Regions from separate parts of the Homo sapiens genome. Here region 1 is linked to region 2. Evidence: fine-mapped expression QTL. Tissue or cell type: whole blood. Region 2 holds a variant in brackets; the other region holds the start of a gene. All regions are shown on one strand. Distances are from middle to middle.

What was found. PIP is the estimated chance that this variant, and not a neighbour inherited with it, causes the effect.
Region 1: it holds the start of SUPT5H, and the variant in region 2 is fine-mapped to the expression of SUPT5H in whole blood (TOPMed, PIP above 0.99).

The regions. Positions count from the first base shown.
Region 1 is chr19:39,441,753-39,449,854 of GRCh38, forward strand. SUPT5H (SPT5 homolog, DSIF elongation factor subunit) reads left to right here and starts at 3,830. Exons shown (of 30, transcript NM_001111020.3): 1 at 3,830-3,885; 2 at 4,052-4,213. The coding sequence starts at 4,139. RefSeq lists enhancers at 3,073-3,870, 3,630-3,899, 3,871-4,667, 4,040-4,259.
Region 2 is chr19:39,334,209-39,342,310 of GRCh38, forward strand. GMFG (glia maturation factor gamma) reads right to left here and starts at 1,835. Exons shown (of 7, transcript NM_004877.4): 1 at 1,766-1,835; 2 at 1,227-1,323; 3 at 1,053-1,102. The coding sequence starts at 1,768. RefSeq lists a silencer at 7,902-8,102. The variant G/T (reference allele first, on the strand shown) is at 3,508.

The DNA.
Region 1 (8,102 bases), 110 kb after region 2:
GGCAGGGAGTTGGATAAATTGCCCCACCTGCCCCCATTCTCACCCTCCTTTAGATACTCTTCTCTCTTCTTCCAGGAAGGGACAGAGAAGTGCACAGGTATTCTCTAACCTCATCCCTATACCTTGAGAACAGGGAGGGTCCTGTGGTTCACATCCCTACATCCCTGGCTACAAAAAATTACCACTTGAAGAACTTTCTTTTCTTTTCTTTTCTGTTTTTGAGGCAGAGTCTCACTCTGTTGCCCAGGCTAGAGTGCAGTGGCATGGTCTCAGCTCGCTGCAACCTCCACCTCCTGGGTTCAAGTAATTCTCCTGCCTCAGCCTCCTGAGTAACTGGGATTACAGGCACGCGCCACTACACCTGACTAATTTTTGTATTTTTAGTAGAGATGGGGTTTCACAATGTTGGTCACGCTGGTCTCGAACGCCTGACCTTGTGATCTGCCCACCTCAGCCTCCCAAACTGCTGGGATTACAGGCGTGAGCCACCGTGCCCAGCCCACCACTTGGAGAACTTTCAAGTAATACTGATGGCCAGACCCCAGCCCAGATAATTTGATAATTGGTCTCTGGTGAAGCCTGAGCATCTATATTATTTTTATTATTATTTAGAGACAGGGTTTCACTATGCTGCACAGGCTGTAACTTGGCATCTGCCCATATATTTTTTTGAGACAGGGTCTCACTCTGTCACCCAGGCTGGAGTGCAGTGGCATGATCAAAACTCATTGCAGGCTCGATCTTTCAGGCTCAAGTGACTCTCCCACCTCAGTCCCCCAAGTAGCTAGCGCTATAGGCGCATGCCACCACACTCAGCTAATTTTTGTATTTTTTGTAGAGATGGGGTTACCCTTTATTGCCCAGGCTAATCTTGAACTCCTGGCTCAAGCGATACTCCCCCCTTGGCCTCCCAAAGTGCTGGGATTATAGGCATGAGCCACCACACCTGACATTTTTTTTTTTTTTTTGAGACAGAGTCTCCCTTTGTCACCCAGGCTGGAGTGCACCGGCTGGTGGACTGGATGGCCACATTTCCATCACCCCAAAGCATTCCTTCTCTCTCTTCCCAGTCAATTTCCACCTCCCTCTCCAGCCCCAGACATCCACTAATCTGCATTGTCTGTATAGGTTGGTTTTGCTTGCTCTGGAGTTTCATATGAATGGAATCATGCTGGACATCTCCTGATGTCTGGCTTCTTTCACTCAGCATAATGTTTTGGAGATTCAGTCATGGGTGTATTGGTAGTTGTTACTATTCTGTTGCATGGATGGATGTACCAAAATTTGTTTTTCTTTTGAGACGAGTCTCACTCTGTTGCCCAGGCTGGAGTGCAGTGGTGCGATCTCTGCTCACTGCAACCTTCACCTCCCTGGTTCAAGTGATTCTCCTGCCTCAGCCTCCCAAGTAGCTGGGATTACAGGCGTGCGCCACCACACCTGGCTATTTTTTTTTTTTTTTTTTTTGTATTTTTAGTAGAGATGGGGTTTCACCATATTGGCCAGGCTGGTCTTGAACTCCTGACTTCGTGATCCGCCTGCCTTGGCCTTCCAAAGTGCTGGGATTACAGGCGTGAGTCACTGCGCCCGGCCCTAATTTTTGTGTTTCCAGTTTAGGGCTATTATGCAACTCTTTCTTTCTAAAATATTCTCAAGTATTCTGATGTGCTACCAGAGTTGAGTTCAGAACCACGGATCCACCAAGGAAGAAACTTCCATGGCTGGGGAAATGACTGTGCCCTCTTTTTTCTGCAGGGAATGGCTTTCTGCAGCAGTGTCTGTAGCGATTTAATATGTAGAATCCTATTTTCTTGTTGTTTTTTTTTTTGAGACGGAGTCTTGCTCTTTTGTCACAGCAACCTCCACCTCTCAAGTTCAAGAGATTCTCCTGCCACAGCCTCCCGAGTAGCTGGGATTACGGGTGTGCGCCACTACGCCACCTGGCTAATTTTTGTATTTTTTAGTAGAGACAGGGTTTTACCATGTTGGCCAGGCTGGTCTTGAACTCCTGACCTCAGGTGATCCGCCTGCCTTGGCCTCCCAAAGTGCTGGGATTACAGGCGTGAGCCACCGCGCCCGGTGGAGAATCCTTTCTTTTTTTGAGATGGAGTCTAGCTCTGTTGCCCAGGCTGGAGTGCAGTAGCACGATCTCGGCTCACTGCAAGCTCGGCCTCCCGGGTTCACGCCATTCTCCTGCCTCAGCCTTACGTGTAGCTGGGACTACAGGCGCCCGCCACCACGCCCAGCTAATTTTTTTTTGTATTTTTAGTAGAGATGGGGTTTCACCGTGTTAGCCAGGATGGTCTCGGTCTCCTGACCTCGTGATCCACCCGCCTCGGCCTCCCAAAGTGCTGGGATTACAGACGTGAGCCACCGCGCCCGGCCCAGGTGTGTCATACTTATGTGAGAAATTTTACCAATGTGTCCTGAGGCTTCTTTTTTTTTTTTTTTTTTTTGAGACTGAGTCTCACTCTCGCCCAGGCTGGAGTGCAGTGGCGCGATCTCGGCTCACTGCAAGCTCCGCCTCCTGGGTTCACGCCATTCTCCTGCCTCAGCCTCCCGAGTAGCTAGAATCACAGGCACATGCCACCACGCCCGGCTAATTTTTTTGTATTTTTAGTAGAGACGGGGTTTCACCATGTTGGCCAGACTGGTTTCGAACTCCTGACCTCAGGCAATCTGCCCGCCCCGGCCTCCCAATGTGTTGGGATTACAGGCATGAGCCACCGCGACTGACATAGACTTCTGATTTTTAAAATTTCCCCTATCAGGTTAATTTTTCAATTTTTAAAAATTTAAGTTTTAATTTTTTTTTTTTTTTTTTTTTAGAGACAGGGTCTCTATTACCCAGTCTGGAGTGCAGTGGTGCAATCATAGCTCACTGAAGCCTCAACATGGGTTCAAGTGATCCTCCCACCTTAGCCTTTGGAGTAGCAGGGACCACAGGCACACGCCACCACACCACATTAAAAAAAACACAAAAATTGGATACATGGGGTCTCAATTTGTTGCCCATGCTAGTCTCAAATACCTGGCCTCAGGTGATCCTCCCGCCTCAGCCTCCCAAAGCGCTGGGATTACAGGCGAAGGTTCATTTTTCATCTCTCCATTACACCTGTCCACTCTGCCATCACTCGTCAGCCGTCATTACTAATAGATAAATTCGCCTTTAAATGAACTTAGGAAGCCTGGAAAGAAAAATAGGGACTTGGGCCGGGCGCGGCAGGTTATGCCTGTGATCTCAGCACTTTGGCAGGACGAGGCCGGAGGATGGCTTTTTAGTTTGAGTTAGAGGAGTTTGAGACCAGGCCGGGCAACAGCCCGACTCTACCAAAAAAAAAAAAAAAGTACAAAAAGAAAGAAAAAGAAGGAAAAACCAGGGCTTCACGGTCACTCAGACTTGGCGAGGAGGCTTGGGTCTGCCGCTTTCCACTGAGTTTTTCTGAGCTTCAGCGTTCTCTCCAAAACGGGGATACGGATCTCCTGGGGATGCTTTAGAGGGCCTAGGAGATAAAGCCTTGTTTCTTTTATAATTTGCTATTCGCTGATTTCGCCGCCTCCTCGCAGCTTGGCCTACCGCGCTAGTGTTCCGGACTAACGAACAAACGGCTCACTAAATTCAAACATGAGTTTCAGCCTGGTCGCCGAGCCGGCGGGTAGAAAAAACCTTTCCCCTCCTAACCCTCCGCAGATGTCGGCCCCGCACTCCGCCCAGGCCAGCCCTGCCTCTCTCAAGATGGCGACCTGGAAGTGCGTCGCCCGTGCCAGCCCCGGAAATCTCGTGTTAGGCGAGGTCAACGGGTAGGTTCTCGCGAGAGGACCCGTCAGCCCCAGTCAGGCGTCGTGCGAACAGCAGCTGGTACCGAAGGCGGAGGTGGAGCCCGAGAGGTAAGTGCGTGTGCAGAGGTGGCAGTTCCGGGCGCCGGGGAGGTGTAGAGAACAGATTCGGAAACTGGGGAGGTCTAGCATGTGGCGTAGGAGGGGGTCCTCACTCCGCTTCGCGATTGCCAAAACGAGCCTGCCGGAAGCGCCCTAAGGGGTTTTCTTCTCCCAGGGAACCAGCGGGGAAACTGAGGCTCGGGGTGGAGCGCAGGATTGTGGGACGCGCCAAGGCTGCTGTCTTTCCCAGCAGCAGCGGAAGATGTCGGACAGCGAGGACAGCAACTTTTCCGAGGAGGAGGACAGCGAGCGCAGCAGTGACGGCGAGGAGGCCGAGGTCTGTGGCTGGGGCGCTGGGGGAGACATTGCGTCTGGGGACAGGACTCCGGGCAGAAAGGCCCCTGTGGGAGGCTCGAGGGGTTCACAGCGGGCTCTGGCTTCTGGGAACTCCCAGATTGTCTCAAGAGATAGAGAATTAGGCAAGTCGAAGTCAAGCAAAGGGACAGGTTCTGGAGGCCAGAAATGGGTCAGGTCCAGTGAGATAACAGGTGATGTTTTGAAAGTTTACTCTGTGTGCATATAGTAAGCACTTAGCATTAGTTTTTTTTTTTAGTTATGTCTAGTCATTCCATAACTATATTTGTAGTGCCTACTATGTACCAGGCGCAATTCTTTGCTCTTAGGGTACACCAGTAAACAAAAAGATTTTAAAAATGTCTGCCTTCGGGAATGTAAATAAATATAGCCAAGGAATAAACTATATAGTAAGCTGGAAGGTACTCTGGAGAAAAGAACAGAAAAGGGGAATGGAGAGTCCTGGTTGCTCTTGAAATAGGGTCATCAGCATGAGTCTGAGGGGTGACATTTGAGCAAAAACTTGTTGGAGGTGAGGGAGTGAGTCGTGGTTAGCTGGAAGTGTAGTGTTCCAGTGAGGGGGACCAGCAGGTGCAGAGATGGGAGTGTGTCCGCCGTGTTCAGGGATTAACGAGGATTTGAGAGGCCAAGCTGGGAGGATCACTTGAGCCCAGAAGTTTGAGAGCAATCTCGGTAACACAACGGGACCCTGTCTCTACAAAAATATAAAAACCATTGGCTGAGGCCGGGCTTGGTGGCTCACACCTGTAATCTCAGCACTGTGGGAGGCCAAGACAGTGGATCACCTGAGGTCAGGAGTTCAAGACCAGCCTGGTCAACATGGTGAAACACCATTTCTACTAAAAATACAAAAAAATTAGCTTGGCATGGTGGCGCCCACCTGTAATCCCAGCTACTCGGGAGGCTGAAGCTGAGAATCGCTTGAACCAGGGAGGTGGAGACTGTGGTGAGCTGAGATCGCGCCACTGCACTGCAGCCTGGGCGACGAGCAAGACTCCGTCTTATAAAAATATTAGCTGAGCTTGGTGGCACGCTTCTGTAGTCCCAGCTACTTGGGAGGCTGAGGTGGGAAGATTGCTTGAGCCAGAAGGTGAAGGTCTAGTGAGCTGTGATGGTGCCACTGCACTGCAGCCTGGGTGACAGAGTGAGACTTTGTCTCCCCACCACCCCCTAAAAAAAGGGGGTCCACTTTGGTTGGATCAGAGTGAGTGCAACAAAGAATTTATGAGAGCCAAGTCATATAGGATCTTGAAGGCTGTGGTAAGGAATTTGGTCTTAACTGAGTAAAATGAAACCACGAAAAAGTTTGAGCAAGTGGAAGATGTGATCTAATGTTTTGAAAGGATCACTCTGGCTTTGGGTCTGTTGTACCTCTGTTCCAGGAACCAAAAAACCAACATTTCCTGGGGCATTTCTGATTTCAAATGTTCTTTTATTTGCCATTATCTTTTTTTTTTTTTTTTTTGAGACAGCATCTCACTAGGTTGCACAGGTTGGAGTGCAGTGGCATGATCTCAGCCCACTGCAACCTCAGCCTCCCGAGTAGCTGGGATTACAGGCATGCACCACCACATCAGGCTAATTTCTGTATTTTTAGTAGAGACGGGGTTTCACTGTGTTGGCCAGGCTGGTCTTGAACTCCTGACCTCAGGTGATCCACCCTCCTTGGCCTCCCAAAGTACTGGGATTACAGGCGTGAGCCACTGCACCAAGCCCATTATCCACCTTTTAAACTTATTTTTGTTTTATTTGTTTGTTGAACAAATCAGTGTTTGCATCTACTACTGTGTTCCACTTACTTCTCAGGTGTCTGGTAGGAAATCTTTGCATTTTTGGAGTTGACATTTAGTAGGTAGCAATCACAAACCAGTAAACAGATGACAGGGTGATTATAGATCCCTTGTTTGATGCACAGAAACTTAAATTGGCTGTTAAATTAGTTGCCAATGCTTGTGAGGGAGATTTAACATAAAGATTAAGATTTCTTTTTCTGGGGAAATGGAAGGAGCTGGCACCCTGGGACACAGAGTTGTTCTGCAGAGCAGCCGTTTGCTTGATGAGTGGCTGCCCTACTTATACAGCTGGGAATTTTCTCCAGTTCCCAGGATATGTTAGTTGCCATTTGTCCTCTTGCTTGCCTTGTGGCAGAGTGAAGAAAAGGAAAAGATTTCATGTGGCTGTGTTCTGGAAAACGTTTGGTAGATGGAGAGTGCTGTGTGTTTCGGGTGACTTGTCCCAGTCACTTATGTTGCCTGCTTATCCTCTGTGGACATTTGATTGCCAATCTTTATTGTGACCTTTGGAGAGTGCCTGGCTTCCAGGCTTGCAGTGAAGAGTTGGAGAAATTGGGATGCTGTGGTGGGAGAGTGACAGGGAGGGCCTTTTCTCTAAGCTGTAGCACTGGATTCTTGGTCTCTGATTCATGGCTTGGAGACACTGCTTGGTGGTTAAAGTCAGGTGGAAATGAGACCAAGATCCCCAGTTCCATTTCCTGTCTGGGACATTCTCGTTTGCACTGTTACTAGTCTCACTTCCCCAACACTACACCATACTTGACCCCCCACCCCCGCCGCTGGCTCCTCTTCAGTTACCAGGTGAGGCAAGAGGGCACTGTGAGGCCTGTCCCCACTGCCAGGGACAGGATTGGATGGCCTTTTCAGACAGCCAAATGATGACATGGTCCTTGAAGGACAGGGTTCTGTGGCTAGACAGGTAGGGATGGCAAATAATGAGCTACTTTTGAGGGGAGCTGCTGGTTCACCCATCATGGCTCCAGTAACCTGTTCATTTATTCATTCAACAAATGTTCTGGCTGGGTGTGGTGGCTCACGCCTGTGATCCCAGCACTTTGGGAGGCTGAGGTGGGTGGATCACGAGGTCAGGAGATTGAGACCATCCTGGCTAACATGGTGAAACCCCGTCTCTACTAAAAATACAAAAAATTAGCGTGGTGGTGGGTGCCTGTAGTCCCTGCTACTTGGGAGGCTGAGGCAGGAGAATGGCGTGAACGCAGGAGACAGAGCTTGCAGTGAGCAGAGATCGCACCATTGCACTCCAGCCTGGGAGACAGAGCGAGACTGCATCTCAAAAAACAAAAAACAAAAAACAAATGTTCCTTGACTTGGCATGTTGGGGTCACAGTCTCCCTTACAGAGATCTCAGTCTCAAGGCAGAGGCAGTTTTATAGATACACAGTTACTGCAGGGGATGTTGAGGACGGTGAGAGCACATCCAAGCCCTGAGGTGAGCAGAGAGTGGTGGGGGCATCCTCCACTGGGAGGGAGGAGCCAGGTTTGGAAAGAGGCATCTCTGGGACCTGTCAGAGGGGAACTGATGACAAGGTTCCTAGAAATCAGCCTGTGGTCCTGTCATAGTTTGGGTTGTTAAAATGTGCTTCATCGTGGGCTAGTCGAGATTTGTGTTAAGCAAATATTTCTGAAGTCTTCTGTGCTTGGCCTTGGGCTGGGTGATGTTGGGGGACCCAGCAGTGCCTGAGATGGACTGGGCCCTACTATTGGGAGGCTCACAGTGGTCAGGGCTGTGATGGAGGGAGCCCAGAGAATTGTGAGCATAGAGGATGTGCCTGACTCTGCCTGGGGGAGAGGGGGCGGGGATGGCTGCCTGGAGGAGGAAGGTTAGTTTGGTTTTTTTTTTTTGTCTTGGTGTCTTGCTCTGTCACCCAGGCTGGAGTGCAGTGGCACGATCTCAGCTCACTGCAGCCTCCACCTCACGGTCAAGCAGTTCTCCTCTCTCAGCTTCCTGAGTAGCTGGGATTACAGCGGTGCGCCACCACACCTGGCTGATTTTTATATTTTTGGTAGAGATGGGGTTTCACCATGTTGGCCAGGGTG
Region 2 (8,102 bases):
GGTTTCACCATGTTAGCCAGGATGGTCTCGATCTCCTGACCTTGTGATCCGCCCGCCTCAGCCTCCCAAAGTGCTGAGATTACAGGCGTGAGCCACGGCACCCAGCCGAGATGGGGTCTTGCTTTGTTGCCCAGGTTGGTCTCAAAACTCCCAGCCTCAAGCAACCCTCCCACCTCAGCCTCCTGTGTAGCTGAGATCACAGGTGCACACCACTGTGCTTGGCTAATTTTTGTATTTTTAGTAGAGTTAGGGTGTTACCATGTTGCCCAGGCTGGTCTTAAACTCCTGGGCTCAAGTGATCCTCCTGCCTCAGCCTCCCAAAGCGCTGGGATTACAGGCATGAGCCACCATGCCTGGCTAGCTTTTTAACTTATATGGAAACTCTTTCATTTAAATGCCAATAAAGCATTATTATCATCATTATTAAGATCATCATCACCTTATTGAGCACATACTAAGTGCCAGGCCTTGTTCTAAACCCATTACAAGAATTAAATCACTGGATGTAAAAACAAGCCTATGAGATAAGTACTATTCTCCCCATTTCACAGATGAGGAAATAGAGACACAAACAGGCAAAGTCTCTTGCTGGGGGTCATGAGTGAGCTAGAACTTGATCTCCAGGGTTTTTTGTTTTTTTGTTTTTTGTTTTTGTTTTTGAGACAGAGTCTTGCTCTGTGGTTCAGACTGAAGTGTAGTGGCACAATCTCGGCTCACTACAGCCTCCATCTCCCGGGTTCCAGCGATTCTCCTGCCTCGGCCTCCCAAGTAGCTGTGATTACAGGTGCCCACCACCATGCCTAGCTAACTTTTTATATTTTTAGTACAGATGGGGTTTCACCATGTTTGCCAGGCTGGTCTTGAACTCCCAACCTCAGGTGATCCACCTGCCTCGGCCTCCCAAAGTGCTGGGATTACAGGCATGAGCCACTGTGCTCGGCCAATCTCCAGGTCTTTCTACCCCCATGCCAGGCTCTTCATATCAGTTCCAACCACTTGGTTCTCCCAGTCTCACCCTGTACCTCCCAGTCCCAATCACCCCAGCCCATCACCTGAAATTCTTCCTCCAGCACCACCATCTGCCGGTCTTTGTCCACCTTCACTGGGGAGGGGTGGCACACAGGGATTAGACACTCCCCCTGATCCATGGGGGACACAAGCCCAGCCCTCCCTATCTGCCCTCACCACCGCCCTCCCATCCTTCTGTGGGGGAAGATGTCACTCACTTATGATGGCTGCATTGTCTGTCTCTTTTCGGAAGCGGAATTTCCTCAGCTTTTCTGTTAGCTCTGGGTCTACCTCGCACACCACCAGGGAGTCAGACTGCCGGAGGGACCCAGGAAGAGCTGAAATGGCCTGGCCTCAGCCCTCACCCCTTCCCCAAACCTGTTTCTCCATCCACTAATGAAGAGGAGCATCGCGCCGGCCCATCTGATGCCTTTGTGAACATTGAGAAAAGGCACCCTTCCCACAGAGTAGATACCCCTCACCAGGGCACTCAGCTTGGGGGGCGGAGCAGAGGCTGGGTTCCCGCCTTCTCCACGGGGACTCTTGGGGGACACTCAAGGAGGTGCAGAGATCCACTTCCTGAGCCTAAACCCAGAGCCACTGTCTCTCTGTTCTTCCAGCCGGGCTGTTCACCACAGTTGGGCCCCCTTCCCGGCCCGTGACCTCCATCCCATAGCCTGACCTTCGCCCAGGTGTCCTCCAAGCCCCAGCCCCAACCCCAGCCCCAGCTCTTCCCATAGAACCCCTGGCCCCTGACCATGATTGTTCTGTCCACAGGCCTCTTCTTTTCTTAGTTCCGCTGTCTTCTAGGCGTGGGGACCGGGGCTGTAGGGGGGCGGGCTGTGCAGTAGGAGGAAGGTTTCATCCAACACCACATCCTGTTTATGCCCTTTCTGGGACAACTGTCACAGAGGGCTCCTCCCCCTCCTTCCTTCCCCTCATCTGCCAGGACCTGTCAGGAAATCGCTCAGACCAGGGTTCCAAAGCTTCCTTGCTGTGTGACCCTAGCTAAGTAACTTCACCCCTCTGATTTGAGATTGTGGTGAGGATATAAATAGCTTCACATCGGCCGGGCATGGTGGCTCACACCTGTAATGCCAGCACTTTGGGAGGCCGAGGCGGGCGGATCACCTGAGGTCAGGAGTTGGAGACCAGCCTGACCAACATGGCAAAACCCCATCTCTACTAAAAATACAAAATATTAGCCTGGCATGGTGGTGCACGCCTGTGATCCCAGCTACTCGGGAGTCTGAGGCACAAGAATTGCTTGAATCCGAGCAGCAGAGGTTGCAGTGAGCCAAGATCACATCATTGCACTCTATCCCAGGCAATAAAAATACAAATAAATAAAAATAAATAAATAAATAGCTTCACATAGCTGCCAGCATGGCAGACACAATAGGTACTAAAAACGAACTATTTTGCTCCTCCCCTCCTCCAGGTGGCCTTCCTAGATTTACCCCCATCTGGGATATTTGAATTGCAGGGCTGGAAAAGGGGAGTTTAGTCTTTTGCTGGTCAGACTGACGCCCATTATGTCAATGGCAAAATGGGGACCAGAGGGGCAACCCCACAGTGCCTGGGTAATGGTGACTTTTTTCCTGCACTTTTCCAACCTCACTAGCCTTGCAATGACCTATGAGGCCCTACAACAAGGGAGTTCAATCCCGTCAGACCGGTACCCAATTTTTTTTTTTTGAGACAGGGTCTCACTCTGTCGCCCAGGCTGGAGTGCAGTGGTGCGATCTCAGCTCACTGCAACCTCCGCCTCCCAGGTTCAAGCCATTCTCCGGCCTCAGCCTCCCAAGTAGCTGGGACTACAGGCACGTGCCACTACGCCCGGCTAATTTTTGTATTTTTAGTAGAGATGGGGTTTCACCATGTTGGCCATGTTGGTCTCGAACTCCTGACCTCAAATGATCCACCTGCCTCAGCCTCCGAAAGTGCTGGGATTCCAGGTGTGAGCCACTGTGAGCCACCATGCCCGGCTATTTTTTTTATTGAGTATTTTTGCACTGCCCCCTTTTCCCATCCCGAAATAAAATTCCTAGATAATATAACCTACTTACACACATAAATTCAAAAAAAAATCAATATAATGTCCTGACTGTCATATAAAGAAGAAATAAAAGGAATGTAGTTCACACAAAAACCATATGTATTTCAGTGAGAAGATAAAAGCAAACAAAAGACAATTTCCACAGGGTCCTAGGCCAACTGTGACTGGCCCACTTCCCTCCATGGTGGGCAAACCCCGGACCCTACACTGGACTCTACCCCTTCACCTACATCTCTGCAGCTGTCCTCTCTCTCCCTCTTGTCTCACCAACGTCCCCATGCCTCCTGGATCTTTCTCCTTAGCCTCCATGCAGTGTTACTTCTTCCATCTTAATTTTTTTCTTTTCTTTTTTTCTTTTATTTTGAGACAGGGTCTCATTCTGTTACCCAGGCTGGAGTGCAGCGGTGTAATCATGGCTCACTGCAGTCTCCAACTCCTGG[G/T]CTCAAGCCACCTTCCCACCTTGGCCTCCTAGGTAGCTGGGACTATAGGCACGCAACACCATGCCTGGCCAATTTTACTTTTGATTTTTATAGAGACAGGATCTCGCTATGTGGCCCAGGCTGGCCTCAAACTCCTGGCCTCAAGCGATCCTCCTGCCTCAGCCTCCTGGTGTGCAGGGATTACAGGCGTGAGTCACTGTGTCTGGCCTCTTCCATCTTAAAAACATAAAACTGTATCTCCTGTCCAGCTGCTGCTCACTCATTTCCTTCCCTTTTCTGCAAGATTTCTCAAAAGAGGCCGGGCGTGGTGGCTCATGCCTGTAATCCCAGCACTTTGGGAGGCCAAGGCGGGTGGATCACGAGGTCAGGAGATCGAGACCATCCTGGCTAACAAGGTGAAACCCCGTCTCTACTAAAAATACAAAAAATTAGCCGGGCGTGGTGGCAGGTGCCTGTAGTCCCAGTTACTCAGGAGGATGAGGCAGGAGAATGGCGTGAACCCAGGAGGCGGAGCTTGCAGTGAGCCAAGATTGCGCCACTGCACTCTAGCCTGGGTGACAGAGTGAGACTCCTTCTCAAAAAAAAAAAAAAGATTTCTCAAAAGAATAATCTACATTGCTGCCTCCAATTTCTCCTCCCAGTTTTCTCTTCTGCCTTCTCCAATCAGCCTTTCACCTGTATTCCTCTCAGCTGACATGCCCTTGTCAAGGTCACCCATGCACTCCACGGTGCTGGATCTAATGGTCAATTCTCACTCCTCCTCAGCCACATCTGACACAGCCCATCACTCCCTGTTCCCTGAAACATCGTCTTCATGACACCACACTTGCCTGGTTTTCTTTTTTTCTTTTCTTTTTTTTTTTTTTTGAGACAGGGGTCTCGCTCTGTCACCCAGGCTGGAGTACAGTGGCACCATCTCAGCTCACCGCAACCTCCGCCTCCTGGGTTCAAGCGATTCTCTCACTTCAGCCTCCCAAGTAGCTGGGATTACAGGCGTGAGCCACCACACCCGGCTAATTTTTTTTTTTTTTTCTTGAGATGGAGTGTCTCTCTGTCACCCAGGCTGGAGTGCAGTGGCACAATCTCGGCTCACTGCAACCTCCACCTCCCAGGTTCAAGCAGTTCTCCTGCCTCAGCCTCATGAGTAGCTGGGATTACAGGTGTGCGCCACCACAACCAGCTAATTTTTGTATTTCTAGTAGAGACGGGGTTTCACCATGTTGGTCAGGCTAGTCTCGAACTCCTGACCTCGTGATCAGCCCACCTCAGCTTCCCAAAGTGCTGGGATTACAGGTGTGAGCCACCGCGCCTAGCCATATTTTTGTATTTTTAGTAGAGACAGGGTTTTACCATGTTGGCCAGGCTGGTCTCAAACCCTCCCATGGGCCAGACACAGTGGCTCATGCCTGTAATCCCAGCACTTTGGGAGGCCAAGGCAGGAGAATTGCTTGAGACCAGGAGTTCAAGACCAGCCTGGGCAACATAGCAAGACCTTGTCTCTACAAAAAAATTTTAAAAGTAGCCGGGCATGGTGGCATGTGTCTGTAATCCCAGGTACCAGCTACTTGGGAGGCTGAGGTTGGGAGGATCACTTGAGCCCAGGAGTTTGAGGCTGCAGTGAGCTAGGATCACACCACTGCACTCCAGCCCAGGTGACAGAGTAAGATCCTATCTCTAAAAACCAAACAGCAGGCCAGGCGCAGTGGCTCACGCCTGTAATCCCAACACTTTGGGAGGCCGAGGCAGGCAGATCACTTGAGTCCAGGAGTTCAAGACCAGCCTGGGCAACATGGTGAAACCCCATCTCTACTAAAAATACAAAACTTAGCCAGGTTTGATGGCATACGGCTGTAGTTCCAGCTACTCCAGAGGCTGAGGCAGGAGAATCACTTGAACCCAGGAGGCAGGGGTTGCAGTGAGCCGAGGTTGCAGTGAGCCGCGATCGCACCACTACAATCCAGTCTGGGCAACAGAGTGAGACCCTGCCCCCCCCCCCCACACACACACACACACACACACACACACACACCAACAATGACTAAAATACTAAGTTATCTGTCACCACCCCTACCCCATTGCCTCTTGGACCTTGTCCTTCACTGCCCTCTTTTGCTCACTCCACTCCAGCAATGCTGGCCCCTTTGTGGTTCTGTGAATGATCCTACTACATGGCCTTTGCACTTGCTGTTTTCTCTTTCTGGAACCCACTTTCTCCTTCATTCCTTCAGATTTCTGTTTCAGTCTCACCTAATGAAAGAGGCCTTTCCCCATGTAAATTAATTCTGGCTGCATTACTCCATTCCCTTAGCTGCTTTCTTGTTATTTATTTGTTTATTTATTTAGAGACATAGTCTCGCTCTGTCACCTGGGCTAGAGTGCAATGGCAAATCTCGGCTTATTGCAACCTCCGACTCCTGGGTTCAAGTGATTCTCCTGCCTCACCCTCCTGAGTAGCTGGAACTACAGGCACGCATCACTATGCCCAGTTAATTTTTGGCATTTTTAGTAGAGACAGGGTTTTGCCACTTTGGCCAGGCTGGTCTCAAACTCCTGGCCTCAAGTGATCCACCAGCCTCAGCCTCCCAAAGTGCTGGGATTACAGGCATGAGTCACCATGCCCAGCCACTGCTTTCTTTTTCTCCTTGGTACTTATCACGAAGTTACACTGTATTTCCTTATTGTTTGTGTCCCCAAGAACTAGAATGTAAGTCTTTTTGTTTTTTTTTTGTTTTTTTTTTGAGACGGAGTTTCACTGTTGTTGCCCAGGCTGGAGTGCAATGGCACGATCTTGGCTCACTGCAACCTCCGCCACCCGGGTTCAAGCGATTCTCTTGCCTCAGCCTCCCAAGTAGCTGGGACTACAGGCATGTGCCACCACGCCCCGCTAATTTTGTATTTTTAGTAGAGATGGGATTTCACCATGTTGGTCAGGCTGGTCTCGAACACCTGCCTCGGCCTCCCAAAATGCTGGGATTACAGGTGTGAGCCACCGCGCTCATCCTATTGTTGTGTTTCTAGCACCTTAAGCAGAGCCTGGCACATATTAGATAGTCAAGAAATATTATTGAATGAATTAATGAACCAGCAGTTAATGAGCACAATAATTCTATGCAGTGTGAAGGCTGTTGCTTAAATGCAGGAGGTAGTGGATGGGGTTTGTGACATGGCCCCACCCTGGTGAAACAGCCTTTCCTCAAAGCGTCTATAATGCCACACTCTCCTGGTTTTCCTCTCTCTGGCTGCCTTTTGCAATATTCATCGACAGCGTCAATTCCTTTGCTCAAATCCTGCCTCTCTGTTTCAGGGTTCTGTTCAGTCCCTGTCTCCAGTGACCCTTCATACCCTCCCCGGGCTAGACCCCTAACTCCCACAGCCTCAATTACCATCTTTGACGATCCTTAAATCTTGGTCTCCAGCCTCAATTTCTCCCTTAAGCTCCAGACCCAGGGTTTGTGCACCTCCTGGACCTCGCTACTAGGCATCCACATTGGGCTTAGTATCTTCCCAACCTGCTTCTGGCGCCCAGTCTCCCGGCTAGAGGGGCCTGGTCCTAAACTTTTCTCCCCCTTCCACTCCATAGCCAGCCAGTGTCAGGGCCCGTTCGCTCTGCCTCCAGGGCGTCCCTCCCACCTGCACCTCCTTCCCTCCCCACAGTCCCTCCCTCGTGCAAACCCCCTCTTTCTTCCCCACCCCCTCCCCCAGCTGCCTCCCTGGACTCCCGATCCCGTTTCATTCCCTCCAATCCGCCCTCCATGTATAAGCCAGAGAGACATCTCTCCAAAACCCCAGACTCACCATGATCCTCCCCGGCTTGAAGCCCTTCACGGCTCCCTAGTGCCCTCGGGACAAGTCCAAACTCCCTCAAGTGGCCAAACAACTGGCCTCTGCTCGTTCCTCACCCCTCCCTGTCTTCAACTCGACCCTCCATCCCGACTGCCTCTCTAAGTGCCTGTAACAAGCCAGATCTCTGTCACCGAGAGCCTTCTGAACACAGGTCCCTCTGATTAGTTCACCCGGACCCAATACAGTTTGTGGAACGCACAGATCACAACCAAAGTCACAGCAACAACTCCCGTTTATTGACAGCCTCCTTGATCCTTAGCGCTTTCTGTGCATTCTCTTCCCACCCTAAAGGCTAGATCTCGCCTCGCCATTCCCATCGGAGAGAGCAAGCGGCAAGGCTGAGAACAGCGCGATGAGAAAGCCGAGCGCCCAGAAGCCCGAGTGCAGACGCCCACTGAGGACAGCCTTGGGTGAGGCGGGCCACCCAAGGGGCGGGGAAGAGGAGGCCTGGAACGCCTGAATCAGGAACTGTGACTTCGCTCGGGGCAGCTGGGGTGGACGCGCGCGAGCCTGCCCCCTGCGGGCCTGGAGGCCCAACCTCAGACTCCGCCGGGCCCGTTGCCCTGGGCAACGCCCCGCGCGCCCCGCCCCTTCCCCGCCCCCCAGCCCCAAACCCCAGGCCTGGCCGACTGCCCGTCACCCCCACGTCCGACCAATCCCGCCGAGGAGGGGGCGGGCCTCTTGGGCCCCGTTCCACCACCGTCGCTCCCCCCTCGCCGCGACCCCGCCTTACTCGGCTCACACCTCCCGCC